Regions from separate parts of the Homo sapiens genome. Here all the other regions are reported to be linked to region 1. The links are microRNA targets in miRTarBase. Many come from high-throughput screens and were not tested one by one. Region 1 holds a microRNA gene; each other region holds the end of a gene's coding sequence.

Region 1 (3,067 bases):
CTACAAGATAGTGGGTTTCTGTCAACTCTTTGAAAGGCATTACTTTATTTTTAGTTATTCAAATTGCTAAAAATTAATTAAGTACAGGCATGAGTATAGGCACAGTGAGAGATAAACAATAACACACAATCCCTGTCATCAAGGAGCTATAATCTAGTTAAAGATGGAAGGATTATATACAAACAAACAGACAACGAACTTTGCAAAGCAGTAAATGACAAATACCAGATGGTGCTATATATAAACATGGCTAAGATGTTTAGAGAATGATGAGGTTTTGCTAGTTTTTTCCCTGAATTGTTAGAACACTAACATTAAAGGTCCTCTTCTTATAAATAAAGTCAGTAAAGGCAAACCATGCATGGGCATAGAATCTGTAAGTGCTCCAACAAACACCTTAGCACTTAGTATGTGCAAGGTCCTATGTTAAGGCTGTTAAGTGTAAATACCATCATATTCTGCCTTTTCAGCTTTTCTTGCATTGTTCAGAAAAAGCTATCCTTTCTACTTTAATACTTGATAACCACTGAATCCTTCTGCCCGTAAGTCAATGAAGTAGTAAATTAGGTAAGACAGACTCCTTGAATCTATTGATAGTTTACAGAGATTGAAAATGGAGGCTCTCAAACTACTTTATTTAGTTGCTATAAGAATTAAATACGTTAAAAACTAAGTACTTAGAAAACAAATTGGGAATAAATAATACCCAATAAATAAGCATCAAATAAATACCATTGTTATTAGTATGAAGTGCTTACTGAATTTTGAGAGATAAATTAGTTTCTGTACTTAATCGTATGGTTGGCTAGAAAGATGAATGAAGGTAGCCTCTAATATATTCTTGTACAAAATAGAGTTATGCCAATGTAATGCATATTAATTAAAATTAATGCAATTATTAATAATAAAAATGGCAAGACAAACATTCTTATGCTTTAATGCTTTCATTCCCTCCATCCCAACCAGAATTTTGTTGGGGGATGAACTTACAACTCTGCAGTGTACTGGGGAATGTGCTCCGGGATTTTGTTGAGCTTTTGATTAGAGCAATCTACTGTGGTTCCTTCACAGCGACACTTTTCAGGGCAAGCCAGATCCGCAAAGCAGTCTCCACTTAATTTTGATCGATAATCTTCTGTACCTATTGAGAATTCAAACCAAAAAAAAGATACTGAGTCTAAAGGTTAGAAAATTTATTAGTTTGTAGGAAGAAAAAAGTAAGATAACTATAGATTATGTAGCAGGGAGACAACTTGGGGTATTTTGGTCAATGGATGTCAGGAGAAAGGTTAAAAGAAAGGCTTGGAATTTTCTGGAAAAAAGAGTGACCAGATTCACATGACAGGAAAACATTAATAAAGTTGAGCTTTTCACAGCTGTACTTTCTGCTGATCCAATTCTGAGTCATTCTAGCCTACTTCACAGCTAGTCACACAATGGATATTAATTATTAAAAAGTTTATTTTTTTTCTCGGAGTCAAGAATTGAAAATATATCCAGTAATAAACATGATCCTATATCTCATTGTAAATTAGGGCTTTCAAGGCAAATAGATATACTCAGGCTTTTAAATTTTCTATGGACTTTTTACTATTCTCTCCCTCTCACATAATCTCGGAGATGCCTAAAAAGCCCTCTTTTTTCATTTTGATTTTGTAGAAAGAGACAGGAAAATCCTGATTTAAGCCTCAGCAGCTTGTCATGCTGTAGAAAGCTGCGTGACGTTCCATGGTGCTTGACGGAACCATGTTTTACTCATACCTCGCAACCACATGGTTAGATCAAGCACAACAGAAAATCTCGCTACATTATCACTACACCAACCACTAGGCCAAAGGTAAGACCAAGAGGAAAATGGAGGGAAGGAGGAGAAAAGCTACAGACGTTCTGGAAACGTAATACTGTTTACATGACATGCATTCTTCCCGCAGAATGTTTATGACCACAGTAAGAGTATTACTACCGATGATTTCCTGGAAACACAAAGAAGGGGCTATATGGAAAAGGTGCCTCCACCATTCCTCAGAACTGCAGAATGGAAACAACAGCTTTCGGGAACAACATCCAGGAAGAAGTTGAAGGTGAGCTACAAGGACAACAGAGAAGCTCAAAAGATCTGTGGTTTCTTCTTGAAAAAAAGGTGCCAAAGACCAAGACTAGAAGAAGGTACATCAGGATTGAAAAGGGAGGGTATTATGTTTCAGATCAGACACTTTTACTTACAGCCAAAATGGTGAATTCCTGCAAAAGTAAAGATCACCAAGAAGGAAAGAAAGAGTAATCCCAATTAAGATTAATATACATATTTATAAAACTAAGCTCTCTTCCTTCTTTCTTTATTATGGGAATTATTGAAAAAATAGCATGATGTGATGGGAATTGTCATGCTTTGTAAAATTTTATAAATAATATTTTGAAGCACGGTGGTCTCACAAGAAAACCAATGTAATAAAAGATGCATAGTGCAAATTAAGTTCTTGATTCCTTTAAAAGATGAACTCTCAAGGCCGGGTGTGGTGGCTCACGCCTGTAATACTAGCACTTCGGGAGGCCAAGGCGGGCGGATCACAAGGTCAGGAAGTCAAGACCATTTCACCTGACGGGTGAAAACCCATCTCCAGTAAAAATACAAAAAATTAGCTGGGCATGGTTGCGGGCGCCTGTAGTCCCAGCTACTCGGTGAGGCTGAGGCAGGAGAATGGCATGAACTCGGGAGGCGGAACTTGCAGTGAGCCGAGATCATGCCACTGCACTCCAGCCTGGGAGACAGCGAGACTCCATCTCCAAAAAAAAAAAGATGAACTCTCTGCAAGACAGATTTTCTTTTATCACTGTAATATGTAGAGTGCCATATAAAATGGTAGTAGCGAGGTACACACGTAAAAGTGAATGAAAAACTAATCATGGAGATCCTCAAGGACAATCATTACAACATTTGGATTAATCCTTATGTTGTGATGTACACTTTTTAATGAACTTTTCAACTTATAAATAATGTGTCTTAGTGGAAATGGAATCAGAATCTCATAAGAAGTTTGCGATGGTAAATATAATCGTTTCATTACAT
Region 2 (3,067 bases), not on the chromosome of region 1:
GTGCGCATCGCCGAGGCCGCCACACTCAAGCCGCCACCCTTCCTGCGCGGCCGCTACCGCCTGGTGCGCTTCGAGGACCTGGCGCGGGAGCCGCTGGCAGAGATCCGCGCACTCTACGCCTTCACCGGCCTGACCCTCACGCCACAGCTCGAGGCCTGGATCCACAACATCACCCACGGGTCGGGGATCGGCAAGCCAATCGAGGCCTTCCATACTTCGTCTAGGAATGCGCGCAACGTCTCCCAGGCCTGGCGCCACGCGTTGCCCTTCACTAAGATCCTGCGCGTGCAGGAGGTGTGCGCCGGCGCGCTGCAGCTGCTGGGCTACCGGCCTGTGTACTCTGCGGACCAGCAGCGTGACCTCACCCTGGATCTGGTGCTGCCACGAGGCCCAGACCACTTCAGCTGGGCATCGCCTGACTGAGAACTCTGGGCCTTAGAGCAGGCCCCGAACTGTGGTCGCCAGGCCCAGGAGGCGACTGCATGGTGGAGAGGGAGCTGGGGCGCATGGGGAAGCAGGTCCCTACTATCAACCGGGAGTTTGGGGTCCTCCCCTGAAGTAGGCAAGGACTGCACGTTTCTTTCTCTCCTGATTCTCGGTTTTCCTTTGAGTCTTCTGGAGCTGCCTTCTCATCAGGTGCACTCTTCATGGAAAGCAACTCTTGCCCCTACCTCTTCTGGGCGCAGGGAGTAAGTTACTGCTAAATTAAATTAAATGTGTGCCAGGCCGGGTGCGGTGGCTCATGCCTGTAATCCCAGCATTTTGAGAGGCTGAGGCGGGTGGATCACCTGAGGTCAGGAGTTCGAAACCAGCCTGGCCAACATAGTGAAACCCCCTCTCTACTAAAAATGCAAAAATTAGTCCGGCGTGGTGGCACACTCCTGTAATCCCAGCTACTTAGGAGGCTGAGGTGGGAGAATCACTTGGACTCCAGAGGTGGAGGTTGCAGTAAGCTGAGATCATGCCACTGCACCCTAGCTTGGGTGGCAGAGCAAGACTCTATCAAAAAAATAAGTAATAAATTTGTTCAAAAGTCCTGCAATCTAGTGAACTGTAACCTCATTTTTTCTCTCTTTTTTCTTTAATTGCATGATTCCATTTATTTAAAGCAGAAAAACTAGTCTATGGTGATAGAGGTCAGAATAGGGGATACTTTGTAGGGAGGATTTGACTGGGATGTAACCTTATTTATTATGTAAACAAACTACAACTTGACCAGGCAGTATATTCTTGTAAGAAGAAAGGAGTCTTCTCCAATCATAGCAGCCAGCCTTCAGCCAGGGGCAGACTGCAGACTGACCAGATGTGTCCAAATTAGACAAAGGTTGAGCTGTAACCAATCAGCCTATATCCAATGCCACTTCCTTTTTCTGTTTATAAACGCTGCTTGCCCACTGTTGCTGGGTGGAGGTCTCTGAAACCTCTCTAATGTAGATCTCTCATTTAATGGGGAGGGTTTGGCCTTTAATCACCATCATCCCTGAACAAAGACTGACCAATTGGACTCAAATGCTATTGAACTATCTTTATTGCATGGACTTTGAGTTATTTGATTTTGACTAGTTGTTTGTTGAAACTCCTGATAAGGAGTGTACTTCAGTTTCTTGGCATTGTCCACTCATAGCCATCATAATAGTCTCCCTGGTCGGGCACAGTGACTCACGCCTGTAATCCCAGCACTTTAGGAGGCCAAGGCAGGCAGATCGCTTGAGCTCAGAAGTTCGAGACCAGCCTGGCCAACATAGTGAAACCCTGTCTCTGTTAAAGATACAAAAAATAGCCAGTGTGGTTGTGCATGCCTGTAATCCCAGCTACTCAGGAGGTTGAGGCAGGAGAATCTCTTGAATCCAGGAGGTGGAGGTTGCAGTGAGCCAAGATTGCACCACTGCACTCCAGCCAGGGTGACAGAGCAAGACTCCATCTTAAATAACAATAATAGGCCAGGCACAGTGGCTCAAGCCTGTAATCCCGGCACTTTGGAAGGCCAAGGCGGGTGGATCACTTGAGGTCAGGAGTTCAAGACCAGTCTAGCCAACATGGTGAAACCCTGTCTCTACTAAAATACAAAAATTAGCCAGTGTGGTTGTGCATGCCTGTAATCCCAGCCACTCAAGAGGTTGAGGCAGGAGAATCGCTTGAACCTGGGAGGTGGAGGTTGCAGTGAGCCAAGATTGCGCCACTGTACTCCAGCCTGGGTAACAGAGCGAGACTCCCTCTCAAAAATAATAATAATAATAAAATAATAATAATAATAGTCTCTCTGATGTGTTGACTCCCCTGGGAAGTCTTACATACTCCTATGCAGCCATTCTTTATAAATCAACTGGTCTGTTAGGGTTAGAGTAACAAAAACATGAAGAAAGCATAAAGAATCATTCAACTAAGGTGAAATTGTGAAGTCAATACTGAAACAAAACAAGTCCATTATGATGGTGACAGGAAATGGAGTCAGGGCCCAAGGTTTTGGTCAATCTCTCAAAATTGAGAGGCTGACCAAAAGGCAGAAATGTTTAAATTCAATTAAATTTGGCCCAAAGTTCCCAGCACTTTGGGAGGCCAAGGTGGGCGGATCATGAGGTCAGGAGATCGAGACCATCTTGGCCAACATGGTGAAACCCCATCTCTACTAAAATACAAAAAATTAGCCGGGCATGGTGGCACATGCCTATAATCCCAGCTACTCGGGAGGCTGAGGCAGAGGAATCACTAGAACCCAGGAGGCAGAGGTTGCAGTGAGCTGAGATCGTGCACTGCACTCCAGCCTGGTGACAGAGCAAGACTCCGTCTCCAAAAAAAAAAAAAGAGAATTTGGCCCAAAGCTGCTGCCATACCTGTTGAACTGCAACCTAACTTAATATTTAAGTAAACTGCCTCCCAACTGAGACTATATTCTTGTAACAAATAGTTGAATCTCAGCAAGTCACAGCAGCTGTGCTTTAACCAGTCACAGGCTGCCAACTGATCAGACCAAGTCCATATAAGGCAAATGCTGAGCTGTACCCCATCAGACTGTTTCTCTGTGTTACTTCCAAAAAATTCGGCCTGCCAGTGTTTCTGGGTGGAGCAC
Region 3 (3,067 bases), not on the chromosome of region 1:
TAGTGACATAATCACCGTAGCCCGGAGTCAAATGGTGCAACAGCAGGAACACTTCTTGTAGCAGGAGGAGACAGGCTAGATGGGGCCTCCATAGCCCTGGGCCACATCCTGGTCAGCTGTGAGGGCACAGGCGGACGGACACCTAATACCTGGGAGAGTGCTCACCGCGTGAGAAGTGCGGAGAAAGGGTTGCAGAAGTAAAGATGATTTTGTTTCTGTAAAAAGGCATATGGGTATATGAACATGTGAGGGTATACGTCAATGTGCAGACAGAACAATCTTGAAAAATTTACAGTACAGTATTGAGTTCATTTTTCATCAAAGAACATGTGTTTAGAATAAGGGGAGCCTGTAGTTTTGAGTAAGAGAAGTCAGGTATCTCACCACGGGCCTGGTCAGTGTCCTGCTGTGTGGAGCCACAGGATCCCTCTGCCTCCCCTCCCTCCTCCCTCTTCATGACAATGCTTGGTTTTGCAGGAGGTGCTCCCCTCATCTGGAGGCCCTGCTGGACCGGAGGCCACCCAGTTCCCAGGAAGCACTATCAACCTGCAGGATCTGCAGTGACGGCAGCCTCGGCCTGGGCAGGCCCAAGGCCACGGTCTAGGACACACCTTCCCTGAGACTCATGACATGAGCCTGGGGAGACCTCATTTGGTTTCCGTTCAGAAGACCAGCGTAGCCCTTTTGAGACTTTTGGGTACATTTATCAAAAATGTTTTCCTTTTGTTTTACCAGGAATGAGTTCGGGCTATACTCTTTGAAACTGCCTTTGTGAGCAAAGTGCTTTGGCAAGGCAAGGGTCTCCCTCAGCAGGGCTAGGTGCACTACAGCCTCTTTCCCCGTGTCCCGTTGGATCTGAGCTGTGTAGCACTTGTTGCATTACAAAGAAAAAGACTTCTGCAGGAAATAGGGTAGAGAACAGGCTGTCTAGTCAGATGCAGCTTGATCTGTGGCAAAACCAAGTGTGGTCTTTCAGCTTCAGTGTGTTAGCATCCCAGCACCTGGGATGGGGTTTGTGGGCAAGTTGATTTTGCCACACTGTAGGGCCCAGGTGGTCCCATTGCCACCGTGAAGCCAAATTCTAGCCCAAGTCTGGTAGAGCAGTCGGGCAGCTAGTTTTCGGGGGAGGATGATGTGGTGGGACAGAGGACCTCAGTGGCCTATTACGGAGCCCTCTTCCCAGACTAAATTCATAGCCGAGAGCTCGGGGGGATGGTAGAGTTAAAATTTAAAATAATTTTCTAAATTCTGTATTTGGATATTAGTGTTTAAGTGGTAATTTGGCAACAGTTTATAAAGTGATGTTCTGAATACCATAAATTATGTGTAGGACTGTGATGGCGCGTGTATGTTTTATTATTGAGGTTGATGTGCACATAATACGTCAGTGTATATTTTTACCGAGTGAGGTCTGTCTTGTAAAAGGAGACAAGGTGATCACCTTGCCCATGTTTATTTGTAAGTCTGTCAACTTAGCAATGACACAGGGTCACTCCTAAATGACTTTTTTTTTTTTTTTTGCCTTGTGCCTTTTGAAGTATGTGTTCATTCAGAGGCTGTTTTGATTCTCAGACTGAATCATTCAAACTCTGCCCTGTGTTTGTTTCTTGAATTTGGGGGTGACATCAAGTTTGAGTGAGTCCTCCCTCTGTCTTGTCTCACTCTGAGGTGCTGTCCCCAGGTGCTGTTCCACGTGGAAGAATCCACACCTCGTCGACAAATGGGTCTTCTCCACAGACCGGCGCTCTGTCACCAACTAAAGGCGAGGGGAGAACTTGCCCACCTGGCAGGCTCTTTAGCCCCAAGGTGGCCCGGAGTCCTCCTCCCTCCATGGGAGGCTTTTGGCCACCATGGCGGGTGGAGCCGCACCCACCCCATCTCCATGGGGAGGAGAGTCTTCCCCCAGGAATGCCCTCTCGGCCTCTATTTTTCTCCCATGTGCCTCCCTGGGAACGTCACCGTGAAGTGACTGGGACTGGCACCCAGTGTTCTGGGCACCAAGGTTCCCTGCCGGTGATGGGCCTAACTCCTAGTGCAAATGAATGAAAGTTTTCTTATAGTCATGCACCGAAGGTTTTTCACCTTGGCTTAATTCAAGTAGCTACATATATGGCATTCAGCCCATTGTTTCTCCTTTAGTTGGTAGTGCTGGCCCTGCCATATACCTAGCTGCCTGCTTGTATTTCTTTGGTCTTTGCACAGAGGCTGATCTCACACTACACTCAGCGTGGAATTAGCTTTTGTCTCGCAGAGCAGCTGTTTTAGATGGGAACCAAGGTGTCATGCTCTTGCCCTCAAGCATCTGCTTAGGGTTAAATGATGAACCGGCGGGGTGCTGAGATTTGGCAATGGTGGCTGCATCCTTAAGCAGGCCTTCAAGACTCCAGAGAGACATGAATTTATTCAGGTGAGGAAGGGAGCACACAGGAGACAGAGAGGACTCAGTTGGGCCACTCGAGACCCAGCCCAGTCTCTGCTTCCTCTGCCAACATCTTTGCTAAGCCTTCAGCCAGAACAGCTATGGTCTGCGAAGATTAAGTAAAGAAAAATAGCAGCTCCTCCTCCTCCTTGTCCATCAGTGTGTGCTCAGACTGTTGTTTGATCCTGTGGGCTGGGGGTCGTGAGCGGCATACCAGTGTCCTGCCTCTCTGCAGGGGAAACAAGCCCAGTGAGCCTTGCTGCCTAGTGAGCCGTATGCCCATATACCCCTGCCCCTGGTGCAGGGAGAGGCCCAGCAGCTCCAGTCACCTCCAGGCCACTCTGGTCAGCCCTGCAGGCTGAGGGCTGGAGTTAACTCTGAAATAACTGGGGGTGTGAGTCTGCCTGGCATTTATCAAGCCTGGTCTCTGGAGCACCACCTATTAGATGTGGGGGCAGAGGGACCTGCTTCCTGTTGCCAGGGTCAGAAGGCAGGAAGGGTGGGGGCCTTGGGACACAGCAGTAGGGGGACCCCAGTGACGGGCAGTGAGCAGGGCTTGGGGTCTGGCCGGAGTGTGGGTAGGGTGGTGGGACCCTGCTCCTGAGCAGAGTGTACCTGGCTGGGGTGGGTGGGCATGGCTGAACCAGG

What was found. The annotated mature microRNA hsa-miR-218-5p reads UUGUGCUUGAUCUAACCAUGU and lies in region 1 at 1,771-1,791, opposite strand. An mRNA with a match to its seed (bases 2 to 7 or 8) in the 3' UTR can be bound and repressed. Matches are read on the target gene's strand: a 7mer-m8 pairs with bases 2 to 8, a 7mer-A1 pairs with bases 2 to 7 and ends in A, and an 8mer does both.
Region 2: miRTarBase lists CHST5 as a target of hsa-miR-218-5p. The part of its 3' UTR that is shown has no 7-base or 8-base seed match.
Region 3: the mRNA of ZXDC is a reported target of hsa-miR-218-5p. The part of its 3' UTR that is shown has no 7-base or 8-base seed match.

Annotation. Positions count from the first base shown.
Region 1 is chr4:20,527,023-20,530,089 of GRCh38, reverse strand. MIR218-1 (microRNA 218-1) reads right to left here and starts at 1,815; the gene lies at 1,706-1,815. It overlaps SLIT2 (slit guidance ligand 2), which reads right to left. Exons shown (of 37, transcript NM_004787.4): 16 at 991-1,141.
Region 2 is chr16:75,526,505-75,529,571 of GRCh38, reverse strand. It overlaps CHST5 (carbohydrate sulfotransferase 5), which reads left to right. Exons shown (of 4, transcript NM_024533.5): 4 at 1-1,042. The coding sequence ends at 423. Among named protein-coding and RNA genes, the nearest start is that of CHST5, 8.1 kb to the left of the region's middle.
Region 3 is chr3:126,435,872-126,438,938 of GRCh38, reverse strand. It overlaps ZXDC (ZXD family zinc finger C), which reads left to right. Exons shown (of 10, transcript NM_025112.5): 10 at 478-1,338. The coding sequence ends at 564. CFAP100 (cilia and flagella associated protein 100) reads right to left here. Exons shown (of 17, transcript NM_182628.3): 17 at 2,383-2,648. The coding sequence ends at 2,535. Among named protein-coding and RNA genes, the nearest start is that of ZXDC, 38 kb to the left of the region's middle.